7 linked regions of the Homo sapiens genome follow. The protein of the gene in region 3 interacts with the protein of the main gene of each other region in a biochemical or structural test. Each region holds a gene or a part of one and is shown on either strand. Other genes may lie near its edges. The genes, in order: PLCG1, EPS15, GRB2, KHDRBS1, MAPK9, PTPRA and MAP4K1.

Region 1 (2,584 bases), on a different chromosome or scaffold from region 3:
CACCTCTGAGGACAGAGGCCGGGGTCCAGGCCCGTGGGCGCAAAGGTGCCTCATAGCATAGCCAGCATTCAGCACACACAAACCTACTGCCCACATTTGGGCTCAGGGTTGGCCATTTGCTAGTTCTGCTGCCCTCTTAAGATCTGACTGCCAAATAAATCATCCTCATGTCCTTTTTCCTTTGACTTGTATGCTCTTTCGGGGGCTCAGGAAAGCCTGTTGCATGGGACATGCTCACTAGAAACAGTCGCCAGATGATTATTCTGCAGTAGAAGCAGGTAGGAAATTTCTGGAAATTTCTCAGGTTAAGCAGCAAGAGCTGTAACCCCTCCTCTGGGCTAACAGGAGTTGTGGGTCCACTCTCTCCTGCCCACCCTCTGAGGGTGTGTCTGAGCAGAGTACATCCTGCCTGGGTTCTTTGTGGCCAGCCAGTTTTGGTGGTGAGCTGGAAACAACCAGAGCCCCTTTCCAGTTCCACAGAAACCTCTCCTTTCAAAAATGTTGCATTCAGTTCGTTAACACTGCCAGGTGCCATTCTGATTGCCTCTAGGACTTGGCAGCTGAAATCTCTGGGCCCTTTCAACACAGTTGAAAGGCCCTTCTCTTCCTGAAGCTCTGTTTCCATAGTTGGCTGTGCTGGGATGGAACAAAAATGACGCCACACAAAAAATTTAAGATAGATCCGGTTCCGTGGATGACATGAACTGATGATAGCCAGTATCAAACAGCGATAGTGCTCAGGTTCTTGTGTGACTTTCTTTTACAGCTTCACAGTCCCAGTTCATAGAGAGGAGGGTGGCTTTTTCCCATACACAAGAAGGTGGTGGGTGGGAATTCACCTGGGCCCTCATGATCCATGTTTCCTCTCTAGGTTTTTATGGCCTGGAGAGAAAGGTTTCCTATCAGAGAAGGAAGAGGACTGTGTAGGCCCTTCTGTTAGGGCCCATCCACGTTGGTTAGGACGTCCTTGGCGTGTTTGTTAGTGTTGACCCTTTTAGTTTTCATCAATACGTATCTCTATTTGCTGAACAAGTGTCTTTCTGGAACACAACCTGGGGAACAGACAGCTCTGCCTTTCTTAAGGCAGCTTTGTAGACCTGAGGCTCACCTCTCTTGGGCTCTGTAAGACATTGCCTTTGCCTCACTGCAAATGTTTTGATTGTTCTTCCTAGTGGAAAACGTGCCAACTCTCAAGCAAATTTAAAGATCATTTTCACTTCAAGATTCCTCCAGACCTGACAAATGTTGATTGACCCAGAAGGCAGAGTGTTTGTTGGTGGGGAAGACCCTTACTTGGGGCCGAATGCTTTGGCATCAGGAGTTGTTTGCCCCATCCCATGCATGCAGGCCGTGTCCCTACAGTGCGACAGCTCAGGGTTATGACCTGTGGAGTCTCAACCCTAACAGCACATTAGCACCACTTGGGGAGCTTCTGAAAAATACTGGTACCCGGGGCCTTAGCATAGGTATTGTTCAAAACCTCTCAAGGTGATTTAAATGAGTAACAAGGGTTGAAAAACCCTGATTTTGGCAGCACAAACCAAAAGAGCAGGCAGGGCCGGGAGAGGGAAGTCAGTGGTACCAGAAGGTAGATGGGCTCCCTTGCAGGCTCCTTGTTCTCCTGCCATCACCAGTAGAACCTTCTGGCTGACAGACCAGGGACAAGTAGACTGGGTTCAAAGTGACAGACCTTTCACTTTCAACAGCTTTGGCTCAGCAGACATGTACACATACAAAGTAGAGCCTACAAGGTCAGGGGCATTCTGCCCCCGCCACAGGACTAAAGACTGCCCTGCGGGAAGATGGCAGGAGCAGTTTCTGACCTCAGTTGAGTATCTGTGGCCATGAGCAGAAAAGGCAGGGGTCTGCCTCCTGACCAAGCACATCTTGAACATCACCTGAGAGCTTGAACATCACTAAGGACCTAGACACTCACTTGTCTTTCAACTTGAGCCCATCACTCACCATGTGAGTTCTGTTGAGGGTGGGTAGAAAGCAAATAGGTTCAGGTTATCCCACCAGACTAACTCGGTGAATGAAAGGATCATGCCTTCTTCACATTTTAATTAAATGGATCAAGCACAGTCTCAGACTGCAACTCCTGTCTTCTCTGGGTACTTTAGTAATTCCCAGGGGACTTGTGCTTAGGGGTTAATCTAGGCATTCTGTTCCCTGCCTGGAGGAACCCCACAGCAACCCCCCTGGCTGGCCGCTCCTGCGAATTCCACCCATAGTATCCCAAGTGAGTCACTGCCTGAGTCTACCCACTACAGCATTCAGCTGATTGGCTTTGCCAGTTGCATGCCAGTTTGGTCTAGTTTCCAAGGACCTGGTTTTTGGGATTCAACACACACAGCTGCTTCCCCATGACATAAGCTGGACTCCTATTCTGGTGTCCAGAATCACTGCCTGGCTCCACTGTAGGTGATTTCATTTCAAAGGACCCTTTTTCCTTCTGTCCCAGGCCTTCAGGGCCACCCCAACAAAATTCAAATGCTTTGGGTCTTAGAAGCTGGGGCTTTAGTCTTTTTCCTCCAGAAAGCCCCTGGGTCCTTATGCATATTCCCTAACCCCCGACACCGCC
Region 2 (3,500 bases), on a different chromosome or scaffold from region 3:
ACCCGGGAGGCTGAGGCAGGAGAATAGCTTGAACCCAGGAGGCAGAGGTTGCAGTGAGCTGAGATTGCGCCACTGCACTCCAGCCTGGGCAACAGAGCGAGACTCCGTCTCAAAAAAAAAAAAAAAAGTAGCAGGGCAATAGCTACTTTATACCACCCTTATCTATTTGCAGGATAACCTAGTAATCTGCCTTTTGCGCTTGAAAGAATATTTTATAATGCATACATGACTGCACTGTGTAAATAAAATCGAGTCTGTTAACTTTTCACTTTTAATACCTCTCAAACTTCTATTCTTCTCATTATCCCTTCTACGGGTACAGTCTCACTCTCTAATCCGTTTTCCACATTTCTAAAAGTTAATCACGTCACTTCTTGCTTAAAATTCTTCAATGGCTGTTCATTGCAGTAGGATAAATCCCCCAATGCTTTAAGATGAATCTAAATTTCTCATCTTCTGGCACTTTCTGACCTAAAATTGGTCATTTTTATCCAGGTGCACATGACAATCACCCATAGAGTGTGTTTTTAAAATATACATATCTGGCTCTATCCCAGAAACTAGTTCAGCAAGTTTGGGGAAAGGGATACACATTTATACTTTGACAATCACCAGAGGTAATGCAGATGCCTACTAGAAGCGCCTCATCTCTTACCAATACCCTCTCCACCATCACAAGATATCCTTCAGAACTTCTCAAGATTCTGTGCTGCATGTATTCTTCCACCTTGTACCTATACTAATACTGTTTTCTCTGGCAGGAATGTATCCTCCTCTTCTTTGCTTAACCACTTCTCACTTGTCTAAACTCGCAAAGCTTTCCCCAACAAAATCTTTATGAACCCCCTCCAAACTGTCCTAACTGAAAATTCTGCGCTTCCTTTAGCACAGCCCTTTAACACAGTGTTACACTACTACACTGTAGGCTGCTTGAAGGAAAGACTGAGGTCTCTTGTCTCTGTAGCTCTTATATTATGTAATACAGCACTCTTGCACATAGTTGGTACTCGTCAAATAATTGGTAAATGAATGTCCTTAACACTACGTAATAAAAATAATTTTAGCTTTTGGTGAGGGTACTTAAAAAAAAAGTTTTACTCTATAGAACCACCATTTTAAAAACAGGCTCTACAAAAAATAAATTAGCTGGCTGGGCGTGGTGGCTCACGCCTGTAATCCCTGCACTTTGGGAGGCCGAGGCAGATGGGTCACTTGAGGTCAGGAGTTCGAAACCAGCCTGGCCAACATGATGAAACCCCATCTCTACTAAAAATACAAAAAATTAGCTGAGTGTGGTGGCACGTGACTGTAATCCCAGCTACTCAGGAGGCTGAGGCAGGAGAATTGCTTGAACCCAGGAGACGGAGGTTGCAGTAAGCCAAGATCGCACCACTGCACTCCAGCCTGGGCAACAAGAGCAAAACTCCATCTCCAAAAAAAAAAAAATTAGCTAAAGTTATCTTTTTATACTAGTTAAAACGTACAATTGTTTGGATTAGGACTCTCTGCTTCTAAAAAGGAAATCTCAATTGTCCTCAGATGAGGCAAGGCCATGTATTTATATTAGATATAATGTCAGTGAAACTTGGATCTGCACAAGGAGGTTGATTATGAAGGTTATGAAAGTATTAGACTCACTGGAGATTCCTGGTGTATGGGCTCAGACTCTAGGTTGCTCTGGCCTTCAACATGTTCATTAAGGTTGGCTGTTTCACTGCTGCTGGTGCTGAGGCTGCAATAATCTGTAGCTCCGTTTACAAGAATGCTGTGTGGGCTACTGCACCAATTTAACTGACTATTATGATTTTCCAAATCTTTCATTTCCATCAGTTTCATTTGCATCTGCCAACACAAAGAAGAAATATAGAACAGAATTTATTACTAGAAAGACATGTAACATAAAAACGCCCTCCTCCACTTCCTGACGGGCTAGGTGTGGTAGCTCATGCCTATAATCTCAACACTTTGGGAAACTGAGGCAGGAGGACTGCTTCAGCCCAGGAGTTCAAGACCAGCCTGAGCAACACGGTGAAACCTCATTTCTACAAGAAATATAAAAATTAGCTGGGCATGATGGAGTGCACCTGTAGTCCCAGCTACTCAGAAGGCTGAGATGGGAGGATCACTTGAGCCCAGAGGTCAAGGCTGCAGTGAGCCATGATCACACCACTGCACTCGAGTGACAGAATGAGACCCTGTCTCAAAAAAATAAATAAAATAAAAATGGCTATACCTGTAGACTTGGTCTAGGATACATTTGCTTCCTTTAAGAAGAATCCTCTGGGAATGCTACGTGACTTAGAGAAAAGATTCAGTAATTTCTGACAATAAGTATTTCTCTCTTGAAATTTTAGTATACATGGATTTTTTTTTTAAAGAGATTCAAAAAAAGAAAATACTTTAAAGAATACCCATTCATCTGGTAGCATTCTCACTACAACAACTCTTTCAGGTTACCTGTTTATTGAGTACCTACACTGGGACAAGAACTGTGCTAAATGATACGGATTTTTAAAAATGTGTAAGTTCCCAGACCAAAACCATGACTCTGCTAGGGGAGACAGACATATAAGCAAATATGCAGGGAAAAATCTTATTATTGCTGTAACATAAATACAAAGTCCAACAAAAGCAGGATGCAGAAAATACCATAAAGAAATAAGAATTTAAGGTATATCTTGCATGACGAATGAGTAGGTAGGTACTCAGCTGCCAGATAACAGGGGGTAAGGAAGCGCAAAAGTGAAGGACTTCATTATATGTAATAACTGAGCACACTGGACTGGGTTTTAGAAGAACTGGATTTTAGATGTAGCTCTTTTCAAGGATATGTAACCTTGAGAAAGTTACTTGAACTTCCTTGGCTTTAGTTTGTTCAAATTCATAATGAAAGAAATCAACTCCATGATCTCTGTGTTTCTATCCTTTTTTTTTTAGTTTTTATTTTTTGAGACAGATTCTCACTCTGTTGCCCAGGGTGGAGTGCAGTGGTGTGATCTGAGCTCACTGCAACCTCTGCCTCCCAGGCTCAAGTGATTCTCGTGCCTCAGCCTCCCAAGTAGCTGGAATTACAGGCAGGTACCACCATGCCCAGTTAATTTTTGTACCTTTTAGTAGAAACAGAGTTTGGCCATGTTGGCAGGGCTGGTCTCGAACTCCCGGCCTCAAGTGATCCATTGCCTCAGCCTCCCAAAGTGCTGGGATTACAGGCATGGGCCACCACCATGCCGAGCCCTAACTATCTTATCATTCATTAAAACATTAGTCTTCATGTAGGGAAACCTGGAAATAAAGCAAAGGATCTATACATAAGACCAACTATAACACTGCAAATTTATCTACAGAAGGAACAATTTCCTTAAGAAAAAAGTTTCCAAATTAGCAAATGTGAATTCAAAATTAGAATCACAAAACAGAAGAAACTAGGTTATTGTTTATAAAACAGGCAACACTTATGGAGCATTTATGTACCAAGCACCATGCTAAAATGTCTTACAGGT
Region 3 (3,500 bases):
CAATGGTGAGGGTGAAGATTCTCAATCAGCAAGGCTCTCTTTCCTCCTAGGCCCCCAAGATCTCTCCACTAGGGAGGTTTTTTCCCATTTGTAGGTATAAAATAATGAATATAAACTGAAATAGCCTAGATGTACATGAAGCAAACATAAAAAGTAAGATGCTTCCCTCAAACTCCCCAGAGGCAGCACGTGTTGGCGGTTCTAACACTTAGGTTTCCAGACCTTTCTGTCTGGTGTCACATAGACATGGCTGCTGTGTTTTCTTGCCCCCAGCTTAAAATTAACGCAATTTTATTTTCAATTAAAAAAAATAAATTGTAGTGAAGTACAAATTATAATGTTTAAAAAGTACTCTAACTGGAATTAAAACCAAAAACCAAAAAAACCACAACTCTGTTATAAGCACCCAGATCAAGAAATAAAAAATCTGGCACCAGGTGCAGTTGCTCACGCCTGTTAATTCCAGCACTTTGGGAGGCTAAGGTGGGAGGATTGCTTAAGCCCAGTAGATCAAGACCAGCCCGGGCAACACAGTGAGACCCTGTCTCTACGAAAAATAAAAAATTAGCCAGGCATAGTGGTGCACAGCTGTAGACGCAGCAACTTAGGAGACTAAGGTGGGAGGATAACTTGAGCCCAACCTGGATGACAGAGCAAGACCCTGTGAATAGCTGTCACTACTAAAACACTGAAATACCACCATTCTACATTTCTATAGCATTTTATATCATTTATAAATTTGACTTTTTAAAATGATGATATGTACATGTGACTACATGCTTACGGGTGAATTTTTTTTATTTTTTATTTTTTGAGACAGAGTCTTGCTTTGTTGAATAGGCTGGAGTGCAGTGGCGTGATCTTGGCTTGCTGCAAGCTCTAACAGGCAAATGTTTTGAAAGTCTTTAAAAAGATGGGCTTTGGGCCGGGTGTGGTGGCTCACACCTGTAATCCCAGCACTTTGGGAGGCCGAGGCGGGCGGATCAGGAGGTCAGGAGATTGAGACCATCCTGACCAACACAGTGAAACCCCATCTCTACTAAAAATACAAAAATTAGCCAGGCATGGTGGCACATGCCTGTAATCCCAGCTACTCAGGAGGTGGAGGCAGGAGAATCCCTTGAACCAGGGAGTTGGGGGTTGCAGTGAGCCGAGATCGCGCCACAGCACTCTAGCCTGGCGACAGAGCGAGACTCCATCTCAAACAAACAAACAAACAAACAAACAAAAGATGGGCTTTGGCAGGGTGCGGTGGCTTACACCTGTAATCCCAGCACTTTAGGCCAAGAGCTCGAGATCAGCTTGGCCAACACAGTGAAACCCCATCTCTACTAAAAATACAACAATTCGACGGGAGTGGAGGCACGCGCCTGTAGTCCCAGCTACTCGGCAGGCTGAGGCACAAGAATCGCTTGAACCCAGCAGGCGGAGGTTGCAGTGAGCTGAGATAGCACCACTGCACTCCAGCCTGGGCAACAGAGCAGGATTCCGTCTCATAAAAACAACAAGAACAACAACAAACAAAAAACAAAAAAAAAAAAGGTGGGCTTATACAACAGAAATAGCAAGGGCGAGAGCTAAGGGGGTGAGGGGAGAAGGCTAATTTTCCAATATAATTCTTTACTACATCCCGTAGGCTCCCATCCATATGCATTTAGTGTGAAAAGCACATATTTGGATCCACCCCTCAAGCATATACAACTCATGCTGCAGCACTAATGCCAACAATCATTTTGTAGTCTAATTTGTTAACTTGAATGCTGCATTAGCTGACATGGTGCTACATTTTATGCTTCCCTCTTCCTCCATAACCCCTGCTCCCCACCCCCACAAACAAACAAACAAACAAACAAAAAAACAGGAGGTGGTAGGATGTGGAGGAGAAGGCCTGGTACTGACCCTGACCCTATACTCATGAACATCCAGCCACAGAGCAGCCCTATACAACAGCAACTACGTCTGCAAGGCCAAACACCTACATAGGCACAAGCATGGTCTTTGTTAGCAATATGGTAGACCTGAATAAATAAGGGTTTTTAAGTTGCTAGTTGCCTTTTCAGAGCTCAGAGTGGCTGAGCACTGCCCACCCTTTGGGCAGAGTCTGCAAATAACAACACAGCTGAGCCTGTGCTGGGTGCTTCTCCATCAATTCTTCTAAAGTTCTTCATAGTGGGGACAAAAGGTCAAGGCAAGGGAGTGACTGTCCCAGTCAGCCTGGCAGTAACTACAACTTTCCAAGGAAGGTAGCCTTTCCTATCTTTCCTCAACAGTCAGATTTAAATGCCTGTGTCACCCGAAACACTGAAGAAAAATAAGAATTTCGAGCCACAGGCATGTCATATAAGAAGTGTAGTATGATGTTCTGTTGAATTCCCTTTCAATCTGAAAATATGAAAACAAAAGGGAACTGAAGTCGATGTTGTGTTTGGATCTAATGAAGGAGCCAGCAAACAATAATGGCCTTCTGCCCAAATCTGCCCACAACCTAAGACTGTTTTTTAAATTTCTACTCGATTGTTAAAAGAAAATTTTTACAAGGAATATTTGACAGGATTGTATGCAGCCCACAAAGTCGAAATTACTTGCTATCTGGCTCTTCACAGAAAAAGTTTAGCCAACCCTTGACCTACAGTTTCTTTTGAGGACGACTGAAGGAAACAGAAGTACACAAATTATGTGGCTTATATGGGACCTGGGGAGGATGTGCTGTGATCCAACAGGCCCCTCCCACTCAAGATGCGACAAGCCACCTGAAAGTCTCCGCCACCAGCTGCTGTGAAAGCAAGTGGACAATGTCCAAGGGCATTCTAGTCTGAGCGTGGAAAGCCTCAGCTCCCCTGACACACTTGTAAGGCAAGCCAGCAACTGCTTCTGTGCTAGGAGCAGGGCCTGTGAATGAGGGGTGGGTGAGAACGGGAGGACAGTGGTCTGCAGGGGCTCTCAGGGGTCCACTATGTTGCGTTATTAATAAAATCGTGACAAGGGTAGCTTCTGAAAAAAAATTAAAAATATTCACTGCTCCCAGCAGCCTGGAGGACAGCATATTTTGTTCTCTTGTAAGTAGGAACACTAAGATGGAGGGATAAACATTTATTGAGAACTATTAGATGCCAAGCACCGTACTCTGGGGATACAAAGATATTAAGATACCGTCCCACAGCATTAGCACATATAAACACAAAATCATCTAAGTACCTTTTCTAAAACTCAAAAAAAATGCAGAATTATAAAACACATCTGGCTCTAAGACATATTTAACAGAAAAAGAATTACGGACCTGCACCAACTATCGTTTTATTTTTGAAGATCACTGACAGTTATTATCAATCTAAAACATATAATATTATTGACTATGATATATTATTATATACTATTAACATGCACAATCAATATCCTTTGTTAATTCCCTAGAAACGTGAATAAAAAGTATGACATCCATCCCAGTGATCTCAATTTTAAAAAGAGTGTTTGAAACAAGGAGGTGGGTCCAACCCTTCCAA
Region 4 (3,500 bases), on a different chromosome or scaffold from region 3:
TCTTCTATGCCTTGAAGAGTGCTGCACAGAGTGGCCTCTTATTAAATATTTCACGAAATAATACATATTCACCTTCATTGAAGATGGGACTGATGAAAAAATGATGACAGCCGTGCACGGTGGCTCACACCTATAATCCCAACACTTTGGGAGGCTGAGGCAGACGGATCACTTGAGGTCAGGAGTTCAAGACCAGCCTGGCCAACATGGTGAAACCCCGTCTCTACCAAAAATACAAAAATTAGCCGGGCGTGGTGGCACATGCCTGTAATCCCAGCTACTTGGGAGGCTGAGGCAGGAGAATCACTTGAAACCGGGAGTTGGAGGTTACAGTGAGCCCAGATTGCACCATTGCACTCCAGCCTGGGTGAAGAAGCAAGACTCCGTCTCAAAAAAAAAAAAAAGACAAAATTTTGAGGGATGTAGATTTTGAATGTAGACTTCTATGTTAGCCAGATTGATATTCAGCTGTGATGACTGTCGAATGTATCTGCAGACATAAGGATTCAATCATCCATCTTTGTTTTCTGGAAGAGAAATAATTTACCTTATTGTGTTAATATATTTATATACTAAGTAAAATGCTGTTGTATATATTCGAATGTGTCTGCAGACATAAGGATTCAATCATCTATCTTTGTTTTCTGGAAGAGAAATAATTTACCTTATTGTGTTAATATATTTATATAGTAAGTAAAATGCTGTTGTATAGATACCAGTGTTCTTTTTCTACTTTTTTTTTTTTTTTTTTTTTTTTGAGACGGAGTTGCACTTTTGTTGCCCAGGCTGGAGTGCAATGGCGCGATCTTGGCTCACCGCAACCTCCACCTCCCAGGTTCAAGCAATTCTCCTGCCTCAGCTTCCCTGGTAGCTGGGATTATAGGCATGTGCCACCACGCCCGGCTAATTTCGTATTTTTAGTAGAGACGGGGTTTCTCCATGTTGGTCAGGCTGGTCTCAAACTCCCGACCTCAGGTGATCCGCCTGCCTCGGCCTCCCAAAGTGCTGGAATTACAGGCATGAGCCACTGCGCCCGGCCTATTTTTCTACTTTCTACAATTAGGGAAATACAAGTTAGTATAAGTGACTCAAGAATAAACATTTTGAATAGATTAGCAATCTGCAAAAGATCTTGGAGAGATACTCAAAAATCCATCCTTCAAAAGCATACAGTGGAAAACATTTACAAAGTCTGTTGAAACTTCAAAATAGTTAATTCCTTTATTTACAGTATTCTCTAGAAATACATTAAGACCTTCCCAGTTCATTCTACAGGGCTAGCAAAACCTGCTTTTAAAACTGGAAAATAAGGGCCGGGCCTGGTGGCTCATGCCTGTAATCCCAGCACTTTGGGAGGCCGAGGCAGGCAAAGCACGAGGTCAGGAGTTCGAGACCAGCCTGGCCAACGTGGTGAAACCCTGTCTCTACTAAAAATACAAAAAATTACCCCTGGTGTGGTGGTGGGCGCCTGTAATCCCAGCTACTCAGGAGGCTAAGGCAGGAAGATCATTTGAACTCAGGAGACGGAGGTTGCAGTGAGCCAAGATCGCACCACTGCACTCCAGCCTGGGCGACAGTGTGAGACTCCGTCTCAAAAAAGCAAACAGGCCGGGTGCGGTGGCTCACGCCTGTAATCCCAGCACGTTGGGAGGCCGAGGCGGGTGGATCACGAGGTCAGGAGATCAAGACCATCCTGGCTAACACAGTGAAACCCCGTCTCTACTAAAAGATACAAAAAAATTAGCCGGGCGCAGTGGCGGGCGCCTGTAGTCCCAGCTACTGGGGAGGCTGAGGCAGGAGAATGGCGTGAACCCGGGAGGCGGAGTTTGCAGTGAGCCGAGATCGCGCCACTGCACTCCAGCCTGGGGGACAGAGTGAGACTCCGTCTCAAAAACAAACAAACAAACAAACTGGAGAGTAAGGCCAGGTGCGGTGGCCCATGCCTGTAATCCCAGCACTTTGGGATGCCAAGGCAGTCGGATCACTTGAGGTCAGAAGTTCGAGACCAGTCTGACCAACATGGTGAAACCCTGTCTCTACTAAAAATACAAAAGATAGCTGGGTGTGGTGGCACGTGCCTGTAATCCTAGCTACTCGGGAGCCTGTAATTCCAGCTACTCAGGAGGCTGAGGCAGGAGAATCACTTGAACCCAGGAGGTGGAGTTTGCAGTGAGCCGAGATTGCGCCGCCACTGCACTCCAGCCTGGGCGACAGAGCGAGACTCTGTCTTAAAAAACAAACAAACAAACAAAAAACCAGCAACACCTTTTCTAGGAATATGCTCAAAGAAACTTATACATGAGCACTTGATTCATGAAATGGTGTACCTTGTTCACAAAACATTGCAACTTGTTTCACCATTCATTGGATAATGTGATAGATTTACAACAGAAAATATTTGGCTGGGCACAGTTTCTCACGCCTGTAATCCCAGCATTTTGGGAGGCAGAGGCGGGTGGATTAACTGAGGTCAGGAGTTTAAGACCAGCCTGACCAACATGGTGAAACCCTGTCTTTACTAAAAATACAAAAATTAGTTGGGCGTGGTGGCAGGTGCCTGTAATGCCGGCTACTTGGAAGGCTGAGGCAGGAGAATTGCTGAAACCCGGGAGACAGAGGTTGCAGTGAGCTGAGATCTAGCCAACAAGTGAAACTCAATCTCAAAAAAAAACAAAAAGAAAGAAAGAAAGAAAAAGAAAATATTTGTACAGCAGTGAAAATGGATGAACTATAGCTGCAGGCAACAACATGGAGAAATCTCCAAAATCTAATGTTATATGAAGAAAGTACATCCCATAAGACTACATACAGTATAATACTATTTCTATAAAACAAAGCCTAGTAAGATAAAGCAGAATATCATTAAGTATACATTTATCTGTGATATTGCAGGTTTTGTTTTTTTGTTTGTTTGTTTGTTTTGAGATTGAGTCTCGCTCTGTCGCTCACGCTGGAGTGCAGTGGCGCGATCTTGGCTGACTGCTACCTCTACCTTTCGGTTTCAAGCAGTTCTCCTGCCTCAGCCTCCCGAGTAGGTGGGATTACAGGCGCCCACCACCATGCCCGGCTGATTTTTGTATTTTTAGTAGAGATGGGGTTTCACCGTGTTGGCCAGGCTGGTCTCAAATTCCTGACCATGATCCTCCCTCTTCAGCCTCCCAAAGTGCCTGTGTTACAGGTGTGAGCCACCATGCCCAGCCCAATGCAGGTTTTGTTTGTTTGTTTGTTTTTTGTTTTTTACAAAACTAAATGTGCTTATTGGCTGGGCATGGTGGCTCATGCCTGTAATCCCAGGACTTTGGGAGGCCAAGGTGAGAGGATTGCTTGAGCCCTAGTGAGAGCTTGTCTCTACAGAAAATTTAAAAATTAGCTGAGAATGGCGGCACACACCCATAGTCCCAACTACCCGGGAGCCTGAAGCAGAAGGATCACTTGAACCCAGGAGATTGGTCTTAGGCTGAGGTGGAAGAATCGCTTGAACCCAGGAGGTCGAGGCTGCC
Region 5 (3,500 bases), on a different chromosome or scaffold from region 3:
AAGTGCTCACTGAGGCATGTCTTAGAAAAATGAACTTACATCACCATGAAATAACCTAGGGAACTGGTACATGAACTCAGTTCTTCCAAAATGTTATACTTCCAAAAGACCCGCTCAGGAAATGTGTTTCTGGCATTCAATTCACTAGCAAATTCTCCTTCCTACTCCTGGTTCATACATATTGTCAAATCAGAATTATGCCCACATTTTATTTACCTATTTAGCCAAAATGTGAAAACTGTCTCACACCTTTTCCTTCTGCCATATATACATATATAAATAAAGACAGAGTCTCGCTCTGTCGCCCAGGCTGGAGTGCAGTGGCATGATCTCGGCTGACTGCAACCTCCACCTCCCGGGCTCAAGTAATTCTCGTGCCTCAGCCTCCCAAGTAGCTGGGACTACAGGCACCTGCCATAACGGTCGGCTAATTTTTGTTATTTTTAGTAGAGATGGGGTTTCGCCATGTTGGCCAGGCTGGTCTGGAATTCCTGGCCTCAAGTGATCTGCCTGCCTCGGCCTCCCAAAGTGCTGGGATTATAGGTGTGAGCCACTGCGCCCAGCCCACCTTATACTTTTGATACCTCTTCTGCCTGCTCACTCCCACAGACTTCCCAGGATGCACCCACCCAGCATCTGTGTGCCATTTGCCACACAGCAACCATCTGGGCTCCCGGCTACACTAAGCCTGCTCAGCTCTAGACCCTAACCCCCCTGACTCAAGGACAAGCTCCCTCAACTCTTCCTTCTCCAACATCATCGACATTTTGCACTCTACCAATACATTCCACCACGTTGGTAAATGATGGTGTTTTCTCCTATGTTAACACAGTAGCTGCTTTCCTTTGGCCCTACCTATCGCTTTATTTCTTATTCCTATTTGCAGCAAAAACTTCCATAAAGAGCTGTCGGTCGGGCTCAGTGGCTCACACCTGTAATCCCGGCACTTTGGGAGGCCGAGGCAGGTGGATCACAAGGTCAGGTGTTCAAGACCAGCCTGGCCAAGACGGTGAAACCCTGGCCCTACTAAAAATACAAAAATTAGCCAGGCGTGGTGGCGGGCGCCTGTAATCCCAGCTACTCGGGAGGCTGAGGCAGAAGAATCGCTTGAACCCAGGAGGTAGAGGTTGCAGTGAGCTGAGATCGCATCGCTGCCCTCCAGCCTGGGCAATGGAGTGAGACTCTGTCTCAAAGGAAAAAAAAAAAAAAAAAAGGAAAGAAAAAAGAGCTGTCTACACTTGTGTCTCTAATTCCCAGCCTCTCATTTTCTCTCAAACATACTCCCATCAGGCTTTCTTCCCTCCACTCCATAAATGCTGTGCCCATCATGGCTGCCAGCAGCCATCACAAGGCCCAGGGGCCAATCCCCCGTCCTCATCTCCTCATGTGAATGAGCCTCCCTCAGTCACCACACTCTAGGAGGAGGGGTCACGTGAGTGCCTTCTCCATTTCCTTCCCTATTCCCTTTGTCCCTCCACCTCAAGGGGGCTAAGTCCCGGGTCCTGGTCTCTTCCTCCCCTGCAAGTGCTCGCTACCAGTCCTAGGCTTCAAGGCTACCGACAGACGGATGACACCCACTTTGATCTCTCTATCCCAGACCTTGCCCCTAAATTCCACTGTCTAACAGACATCTCCAAACCCTAGCAAGGCTCCTTGAAGGGTCCAGCTTCAAAGCAGAGTACAAGCCCATCTCCCCGGCCACACCCCTACCCGCCTGCTGGGGGCCTCCACCTCTCCTCTGGATGATGGCAGCCTCTGCTCTGTTCTCCTGCTCTGCCCTGCCCTTGACGATCCACCCTCAATTCAGCAGCTGGGAGGAGCCTCTTTGCATCTCAGTCAGACTAGGCACCCAGAAATGGGCAGGTGAGAGAAATATCTGCTGGGTTAATGATAAAGGACTAGAAATTAAACCAGTTGTGAGAGGAGACCCACAGATTCCCCGAGAGGACTCCACCCCAGCATCCTACAGGTGGGAGGGATGGGGGACAGATGAGAGGGACGGGGGAAGGGGAACAATAATTCCGACAAGCCCAGTGGACCCTGTTGTCTAACTCTCGTGAAGCTGCAGGCAGACCACAGGTCTATTTTACAGAAGGGGAAACCAAGGCTCAGAGAGGCCCTAAATTTCTCAAGGATGCATGGCTGCCAAGGGGAGGAGTCTGAGCTGGGGCCCGAGGTGGCCGGGCTAAAGCTTTCTCTTTCTCATAGACCACCGCAGGGACAGGAGTTCCTTTTCTACCCTGGGTCGCAAATTAAAGCAAATCTCTGAGACCCTCAGTCTGATTTCTGCAACTTTTTTCTATCTCCCAAATTTCAATCTAATATTTGAAAGAGTTGGCAAAATTTTCTTTAGAAAATGATGTTAAACTCTGTGTGGCTTTTGGGAATAACATTAGGTAACCTTATATATAACACTATTAATTACTGACATTAATGTTCATATGTATAGCAGGAATTTTAATTTTACTTACTAAAATGCACCAAAAAGTACTCACATTTTTCATTTTTGTACTTTTTGAAGAAAACATTTTGTAATAAAACAAGGAATGGCACAAAATGAGTAAGAATTGAGACAAACTGAACATTAAGTAGATATTTCTAAATTATTAGTCTTTTAATTTTTCAACTTTTCCCTTTTTAATTAAGTTTACTTGCAAAATAAAGACGTCCTTATTTATAGGTTGCAACAAGTGAATCTGAGATGAGGCTATGGAAACTGCTAGAAAATTTAGTAGAACAAATAAAATAACTTGACATATTATATAATCTATGATATAGAAAATGTAAAGAAAGGTAAATAAAATGAGAGAAATAAAAATATTTTCACTTTAAGTTTGCACTGTGAAGAATTTATAAGGAGACCACTTTGATAAAATTATTAAAATCTGAAATTATTTTCCTAAGATACATACAAAACACTGACTATGGAGCTTGATTTCCTTAAAAGCAACCATCAATCTGCCCAAGGATGGAGACCAATTTAAACTTTCATAACGAAAACAAAGTCAAAGACTAATGAAAAACTAAGTGGTTAAAACACAAATGAAAAAGGGAAGATGTGAAGAACCATGTTAGGGTAAAAAATACTGAGGATGGAAGAATGGCAAATGAGGAAAGAAGGCTATTGTAACAATTAGAGTAGTTATTCTCCTTTCTGCTGTATCTCTAACATGACTTGCTGACTACAGTATGAGTTTATCTCTTTCATTTTACATTTATTTTGACTTCCCCAGTGTGTCACAAAATAACCCACTAGACAGATTTTTAAAAAAAATTCTACAAAATGTCAGCACAGTAACAAACAAGAAAGTTTAACATATTGTTCCTCACAAAATTTTCATTTTAATCTCTTTCACTTAGGTCCTTTGTAATGTGCTTCAGTTCTTACTTTGGGGGAAAATATTTCAATGCATACCAGTAACTAACAAAATAGTACTTAATTAAAGCACACAAGCACACTAGCCTATTAAATTTAGATAGCATCTTTCCTAGTTAAATTA
Region 6 (3,500 bases), on a different chromosome or scaffold from region 3:
GGGCTATGCTCCCATTGCTGCCATCCTGCCTCCCAATGTTTCCTGTGTATTTGGGGCACCTTGGGAGGGCAAGGGCAGGTCTGTGTTTAGACAGTCTTCTGACTACTGGGTGGGCCCCTCTGAAGAGCCTCCTCCCTGAGAGAAGGGCTGCAGGTGGTGTGGTGGCAGGGACAAATATGTGGGCAGCATACCAGTGTCTGGACCATGTGTGGCCTCTGTAGCCGCAGGCTCTTGACAGTCTGGAAGACATCCAAAATCCCCTCTGCTTTCACACGCTCCAGGACGGTGCTCAGGGCACAGAAGGTCCCCGTCCTTCCTGCCCCGGCGCTGCAACAGAGCAGACACATTTACCACACCTGTGATGGCCCTCTGTGCAAGGGGGTGAGTGACAGTGGTGAGTGGCAGAAGAGGTGGGGGCAGGCAGCTGGTGCTCGCCTTTGCCCTGTGGACCCACCAGCCTGGAGGGGTTCTGGGTCGGGAGGCAGTGTACCCTGTGCCCTTCCTGCATGGCCCCATGTGCTGTGGAGGGACTCACCTGTTGGACCGTGGGGGACGACCTTCACTCACACCCCACCAGCACAGAGCCATTGCTGTCCACCTGCACATGCTGGCCTAGGTTGTTCTGACCTGCTGTTCGCTCAGTTAGAACTAGCTCTAGTCCTGTCTTTCCCTTTTTCTGACAAACCCCACTCCCTACACTGGTGTGTATCTGCTGATTCCTTTCCATGTCTTTCACTTTCTTCCCAAATCCACGGAATCCAGACTCTGACCTTGACAATATCCCCCTATTCAATGTCATCAGCTGATTCACTCACCAGACACTGAGTGCCTACTCTGAGGCAGGGACTGTGGGGTTTAGCAATGTCCCCAGACAAGAAGATGTGTGGTAAGGAAAGAGAAAAGAGGAGTGGGAGTTCTGGCAGGGTACTCAGGGAAGGCTTGGGCAAAGCCCTGTGGCTGCCTGGGAAACTGGCATCTCAGGCCCATGGCAGGAGTGTGCTCAGAGCCAGCCCATGGTGCACACCATCCTCTCCCGGCCCTGGCCAGGGACCCCTCAGAACATATTGGGCCTTGTAAGCTGTTGTTAGGATTCTAAGTAAAGGAGTGCATTTTTTCTAAAACGTAACCTCCAGCAACATGCCCCATACAAAATTCAACTTTTCCCCTCAAACAAACCTCTTTACTGTCTCTCTTCTGCTGGTCACACCAACCCAGGCTCAAACCTGGGAGACACCCTTGACTCCTCTTCTCTTTCACCCTCTGTTCATAGCACAACCGGGGTCTCCACTGCCAGTCTCCCCTGCTGCTCTCCTGCCCACTATCTGAACATTAGTCCCCTAGCACTTATTGTGCCAAGTTCAAGCTCCAAGGTCCTCTCTCTTAGCATCCAATCCTGTCTTGGCATCAATCTCAACTACTATGTGCTCACCAATATCTTGCTCTTGTATGGCTTTCTTCAGTCTGACCCATGGTCATCAGCTTCCCCTATCTGCCCCTCCTCGCTTTCTCTCTCCCGCTGAGGGCAAGGGTGAGCCATACCTGCAGTGCACGGTGATGGGGTGGTTCCCTGACTGCTGCTGCTGCTTCTGCACGGCGGCGATGATGCTGATCATGCCCTTTCCGTCACTGGGGATGCCCACTTCAGGCCAGCCATGGAAGTGGAACTGCCGGATCTGCCGGCTCTTATTCTCCTTTGGAAAAAAGGGGATCAGGGAGGCAGGGGTAACCCTGCTTTTCCTGTGGGCAGAGTCCACCCACGACCCATCTTACCCTGGTGTTGGTGACCAGGAGGTCTCGGACGGTGTAGCTCTCACATTCCTCCTCCTTCTTCAGTTCCACTGTAATATCTCCATAGGACACCAGTCCATCAGATGGCCAGTACTGGGCACACTTCTCCTGGAGAGACAGGTTGGAGAGGTGAGGAGCTCAGAGTACCACATGTGTAGAAGCAGCACTGCCCACGAGCAGCCTGACCCCTCTCAGTACAGCCACCTCTTACGCTGATACGCTTCGTCCCCAAGGTATTGAAAACTTGCAGGATCATTATATCACATCATTCCAATTAACCTCCGATCCTCACCAGAGACCATCTAAAACACTGCCGGGGTCTGTAAAGGACTCTGACTACAGGCTCACAGGGTATCCAATACTTGGTGGCTGCAGGGAGAGGAGGACGAGTGAAAATCTTTGTTCCAATTCCTTTCTTTTTCTCCCATGGGGTGTTTTCATATTTAATGCTGCTTACATCCGCCAGACTGCTAATTCAGAAAATCAGAACCAATTCACATTCCCACACAGCCATGGGCTTCACCACCGCCCAGGCCACAGTATCCTTTCTCCCTTTTACCTTTATCTCTTTGATCTGCAAGGTACCTTCAAGTTGCTAGCACTCGCCTTTCTGTCCTTGCTAGTGAGCAGGAGGTGGTCTACTGTCTGTCTTTGCTTGCACCTGGCTCACTTCCCTCTACAGCTCCTTGTGGGAGTGGCTGCGTCTCTTTTCATCTCTGTATTCCCCACACCTTGCACAATGCCTGGCACATGGTAGGCTCTCAGTATCTGGTAAATGAATTTGTTCAATGTCTGCAGAACAAGCCAAGGCATAAATACATAAATATAACATCACACAGTTATGCTGCCCATTTCTTTAGAGAATTTGGGGGTAAGATCTGAGATTCTTCACTACTGGCAATTGAAAAATTCTCAACCATACATATAATGTCATTGAAAGATTTGGAAAAAAATTAAGTAGAAAAAGAAATTGTGAATAGTCTCACAGTCCAAATAAAATCATGATTATTAAAGTGTTGAATCAAGAACATGCCCTGGACTAGTGCTTTTCCACCCATGTTCTCTAGAAGCCCTGGGGATGCCTCAGGGATCGGTGCCCTGGGCCTCTCTTCAACCAGAACAGCCAAAAAAAAAAAAAAATTCTCATTAAGGCTCACCTCGATCAGGCATTATATTAGTTTTTATGGCACTGGTGGGTGGAATGGATTTTGCTACCACAGTGCCTTCTCAACACTGCTTTACACAGTGTCTCAGCTGGGATGAAGACTGGGCCTTTAAAACCATCAGAACCATAAGGTCCCCATGGGTGTGAGCCACAGTGTGTGTGTGCTGGAGGAATTGAGCATGATCTCTCAGACAGAAATACATATCAAGTCTAGGGACTAGGTATCAACACTAAGAGTCTCATTTTTTTTTTCTTTTTTGAGAGAGTCTTGCTCTGTCGCCCAGGCTGGAGTGCAGTGGCATGATCTTGACTTACTGCAGCCTCCGCCTCCCAGTTTCAAGTGATTCTCCCACCCCAGACTCCCAAGTAGCTGGGACTACAAGTGTGCGCCACCATGCCTAGCTAATTTTTGTATTTTTAGTAGAGACAGGGTTTCACCATGTCGGCCAGGCTGGTCTCAAACTCTTGACCTCAGGTGATCCACCTGCCTCAGCCTCCCAAAGTGGTAGGATTACACAGGCGTGAGCCACCACATCTGATCAAAAGT
Region 7 (3,500 bases), on a different chromosome or scaffold from region 3:
TGCTACCACGCCTGGCTAATTTTTGTGTTTTTAGTAGAGACGAGGTTTTACCACGTTGGCCAGGCTGGTCTCAAACTCCTGACCTCAAATGATCCGCCCGCCTCCGCCTCCCAAAGTGCTGGGATTACAGGCGTGAGCCACCATGCCCGGCCTACCTAGCTTCTTTTGTATTTTTAGTAGAGACGGGGTTTCACCATGTTGGCCAGGCTGGTCTTGAACTCCTGACCTCAAATGATTCACCCGCCTCAGCCTCCCAAAGTGCTGGGATTACAGGTGTGAGCCACCACACCTGGCTGCCCTCTATGCATCTTTGATCACCAAATCCTGAGTGTAAGGACAAGCTCCGCCCCTGTTTCAGCCTGGCCACACCCCAACTCCATTAAGCTCCTCCCCGTCCCTGCCTTTGTGCCTTCCTTAGGCTTCTCCCCACCCCTACTTTTGCTCTCCCATTCCCTACAGGATCTCCTTGACCCTCCAGAATGCCCACCCTTGGTGGAGGGATGTGTCCAGGCGGCCGTGCTGTGGATCCGGAGGGGGCAGCCATTGAACAACTTTACGAGAAGGGCACATCCCTGGGCAGGTCGCCGCGGGGCCAGGCAGCAGATCCGGCAAAGAGAGCAGGGAACAGGAAGGGGCAGTGGTTACGACTTTGGAGCGAGAGTGCCAAGGTTCAAATCCTGCCTCTTACCTTGGTGCAATTTCCCATAATCTATCCCTGTAATACACTTTTTCATACATTGAGTTTTCTTTTCAGTTTGTTTTTGTTTTTTTTTGTTGTTGTTATATATTTCTTTTTTTAGTTTTTCCTCCACTATCCTAAATCATCAGCATTTGTTTTTTTTAAGACAGAGTCTCACTCGGTTGCCCAGGCTGGAATGCAATGACATGATCTCAGCTCACTACAACCTCTGCTTCCCAAGTTCAACTGATTCTCATGCCTAAGCCTTCTGAGTAGCTGGGACCAAAGGCGTGTGCCACCACACCCAGCTAATTTTTGTATTTTTAGTAGAGATGGAGTTTTGCCATGTTGCCCAGGCTGGTCTTGAACTCTTGGCCTCATGTGATTCACCTGCCTCAGCCTCCCAAAGTGCTGAGATTACAGGCGTGAGGCACCACTCCCAGCTGTCAGTTTTGTTTTTGGAGATGGAGTCTCACTCTGTTGCCCAGGCTGGAGTGCAGTGATGCAATCTCAGCTCACTGCAACCTCCACCTCCTGGGCTCAAGCAATTCTTCTGCCTCAGCCTCCTGAATAGCTGGGATTACTGGCACACAACACCACGCCTGGCTAATTTTTGTATTTTAGTAGAGACAGGGTTTCGCCATGTTGGCCAGGCTGGTCTCGAACTCCTGACCTCAGGTGATGCGTCTGCCTTGGTCTCCCAAAGTGCTGGGATTACAGGCATGAGCCACTGTGCCTGGCCAGCATATATATATATACACATATACATATATATATAGACACACACACACACACACACATATATATACACACACACATACATATATACACACATATACATATATACACACATATACATATATACATATATACACGTGTACATATATACGCATATACATATATACACATATACATATATATACACACATATACATATATACATATATATACACATGTACATATATACGCATATACATATATATACACATATACATATATATACACACCTATACATATATACATATATACACATGTACATATATACGCATATACATATATACACACATATACATGTATACATATATACACACATATACATGTATACATATATACACATGTACATATATACGCATATACATATATACACATATACATATATACACACATACATATATACATATATACACATGTACATATATACGCATATACATATATACACATATACATATATACACATGTACATATATACTTATATACACATGTACATATATACACACATGTACACATATACGCATATACATATATACACATACATATATACACACATATACACATGCACATATATACGCATATACATATATACATATACATATATACACACATATACATGTATACATATATACACATGTACATATATACGCATATACATATACACATATACATATATACACATGTACATATATACACATGTACATATATACACATGTACATATATACGCATATACATATATACACACATATACATGTATACATATATACACATGTACATATATACGCATATACATATATACACATACATATATACACATATACATATACACATATATATACACATGTACATATATACGCATATACATATATACACATACATATACACACACACATACATGTATACATATATACACATGTACATATATACGCATATACATATATACACATATACATATATACACACATATACATATATACACATGTACATATATATGCATATACATATATATACACGTATACATATATACACACATATACATGTATATGTGTGTGTATATATGTATATGTATATATGTATGATTAATTATGCTATGCATTTCATCTTTGAATCATTTCCAGTGCTGGAGGTATAAATTATACATACTTTTAGCCGGTAGCCAACCAGGCACGGCTGTAATCCCACCAGTTTGGGAGGCCGAGGTGGGAGGATCACTTAAGCCCAGGAGTTCAGGACCAGCTTGGGCAACATAGTGAGACCCTGCCTCTATAAAACATTTTTTTAAAAATTAGCCAAGCTGGGCCGGGCGCGGTGGCTCACGCCTGTAATGCCAGCACTTTGGGAGGCCGAGGCTGGCAGATAACTTGAGGTCAGGAGTTTGAGACCAGCCTGGCCAACATGGCAAAACTCCGTCTCTACTAAAAATACAAAAATTAGCTGGGCGTGGTGGTGGGCGCCTGTAGTCATGGCTACTTAGGAGGCTGAGGCAGGAGGATCACTTAGACTGGGGAGGCAGAGGTTGCAGTGAGCCAAGATAGCACCACTGCACTCCAGCCTGGGCGACAGAGTGAGACTCCATCTCAGAAAAAAAAAAAAAAAATTAGCCAAGCGCTACTAGGGAGGGTGAGGTGCATGGATTGCTTGAGTCTCCGAGGTCAAGGCTGCAGTGAGCCATGATCGCGCCACTGCACTCCAGCAGCCTGGGCGACAGAGCGAGATACTATCTCAAAAAAAAAAAAAAAAAAAAAAAAAGACTTTAGAGAGTTCTAATTCATTTTATGCATTTGTTGGCAAATTTGATGCCACAAAGGTGCATTATCACAACACTGACTACGTGTGTAGGCATTATGCATGTACGTAAAAACACTGAAACTTCCTGAATAAAGAGATGTTCTTTTTGTACATCTCCATTTATGAGAGGTAAAATTTCTTGAGATCTTGGCTCTTTGGGCAACTGCATATGTGGTAGTGACTCATGGAGGTTTTGATGGATCTTGTCAAAAGACTCTAACTTCTGGACTCAAGCAATCCTCCCACCTCAGCTTCCCAAGT

Evidence for each region.
Region 1: the proteins of GRB2 (region 3) and PLCG1 form a complex in vitro, tested with the Homo sapiens proteins (2 studies listed by BioGRID).
Region 2: the proteins of GRB2 (region 3) and EPS15 form a complex in vitro, tested with the Homo sapiens proteins (2 studies listed by BioGRID, with this or other methods).
Region 4: the proteins of GRB2 (region 3) and KHDRBS1 form a complex in vitro, tested with the Homo sapiens proteins (3 studies listed by BioGRID, with this or other methods).
Region 5: the proteins of GRB2 (region 3) and MAPK9 form a complex in vitro, tested with the Homo sapiens proteins (2 studies listed by BioGRID).
Region 6: the proteins of GRB2 (region 3) and PTPRA form a complex in vitro, tested with the Homo sapiens proteins (3 studies listed by BioGRID and IntAct).
Region 7: the proteins of GRB2 (region 3) and MAP4K1 form a complex in vitro, tested with the Homo sapiens proteins (3 studies listed by BioGRID).

Annotation. Positions count from the first base shown.
Region 1 is NC_000020.11:41,175,543-41,178,126, forward strand, and holds the end of PLCG1 (1-phosphatidylinositol 4,5-bisphosphate phosphodiesterase gamma-1), read left to right. Parts: 3' UTR 1-2,084; downstream 2,085-2,584. UniProt on the Homo sapiens protein: Mediates the production of the second messenger molecules diacylglycerol (DAG) and inositol 1,4,5-trisphosphate (IP3). Plays an important role in the regulation of intracellular signaling cascades.
Region 2 is NC_000001.11:51,404,267-51,407,766, forward strand, and holds part of EPS15 (epidermal growth factor receptor substrate 15), read right to left. Parts: intron 1,843-3,500; coding exon 1,639-1,842; intron 1-1,638. UniProt on the Homo sapiens protein: Involved in cell growth regulation. May be involved in the regulation of mitogenic signals and control of cell proliferation. Involved in the internalization of ligand-inducible receptors of the receptor tyrosine kinase (RTK) type, in particular EGFR.
Region 3 is NC_000017.11:75,329,179-75,332,678, forward strand, and holds part of GRB2 (growth factor receptor-bound protein 2), read right to left. Parts: intron 1-3,500. UniProt on the Homo sapiens protein: Non-enzymatic adapter protein that plays a pivotal role in precisely regulated signaling cascades from cell surface receptors to cellular responses, including signaling transduction and gene expression.
Region 4 is NC_000001.11:32,016,868-32,020,367, forward strand, and holds part of KHDRBS1 (KH domain-containing, RNA-binding, signal transduction-associated protein 1), read left to right. Parts: intron 1-3,500. UniProt on the Homo sapiens protein: Recruited and tyrosine phosphorylated by several receptor systems, for example the T-cell, leptin and insulin receptors. Once phosphorylated, functions as an adapter protein in signal transduction cascades by binding to SH2 and SH3 domain-containing proteins.
Region 5 is NC_000005.10:180,243,584-180,247,083, forward strand, and holds part of MAPK9 (mitogen-activated protein kinase 9), read right to left. Parts: exon of another isoform or gene 2,437-3,500; intron 1-2,436. UniProt on the Homo sapiens protein: Serine/threonine-protein kinase involved in various processes such as cell proliferation, differentiation, migration, transformation and programmed cell death.
Region 6 is NC_000020.11:3,033,981-3,037,480, reverse strand, and holds part of PTPRA (receptor-type tyrosine-protein phosphatase alpha isoform 1 precursor), read right to left. Parts: intron 2,581-3,500; exon of another isoform or gene 2,395-2,580; intron 1,897-2,394; coding exon 1,771-1,896; intron 1,692-1,770; coding exon 1,540-1,691; intron 328-1,539; coding exon 192-327; intron 1-191. UniProt on the Homo sapiens protein: Tyrosine protein phosphatase which is involved in integrin-mediated focal adhesion formation.
Region 7 is NC_000019.10:38,600,954-38,604,453, forward strand, and holds part of MAP4K1 (mitogen-activated protein kinase kinase kinase kinase 1), read right to left. Parts: intron 742-3,500; exon of another isoform or gene 573-741; coding exon 488-572; exon of another isoform or gene 460-487; intron 1-459. UniProt on the Homo sapiens protein: Serine/threonine-protein kinase, which plays a role in the response to environmental stress. Appears to act upstream of the JUN N-terminal pathway.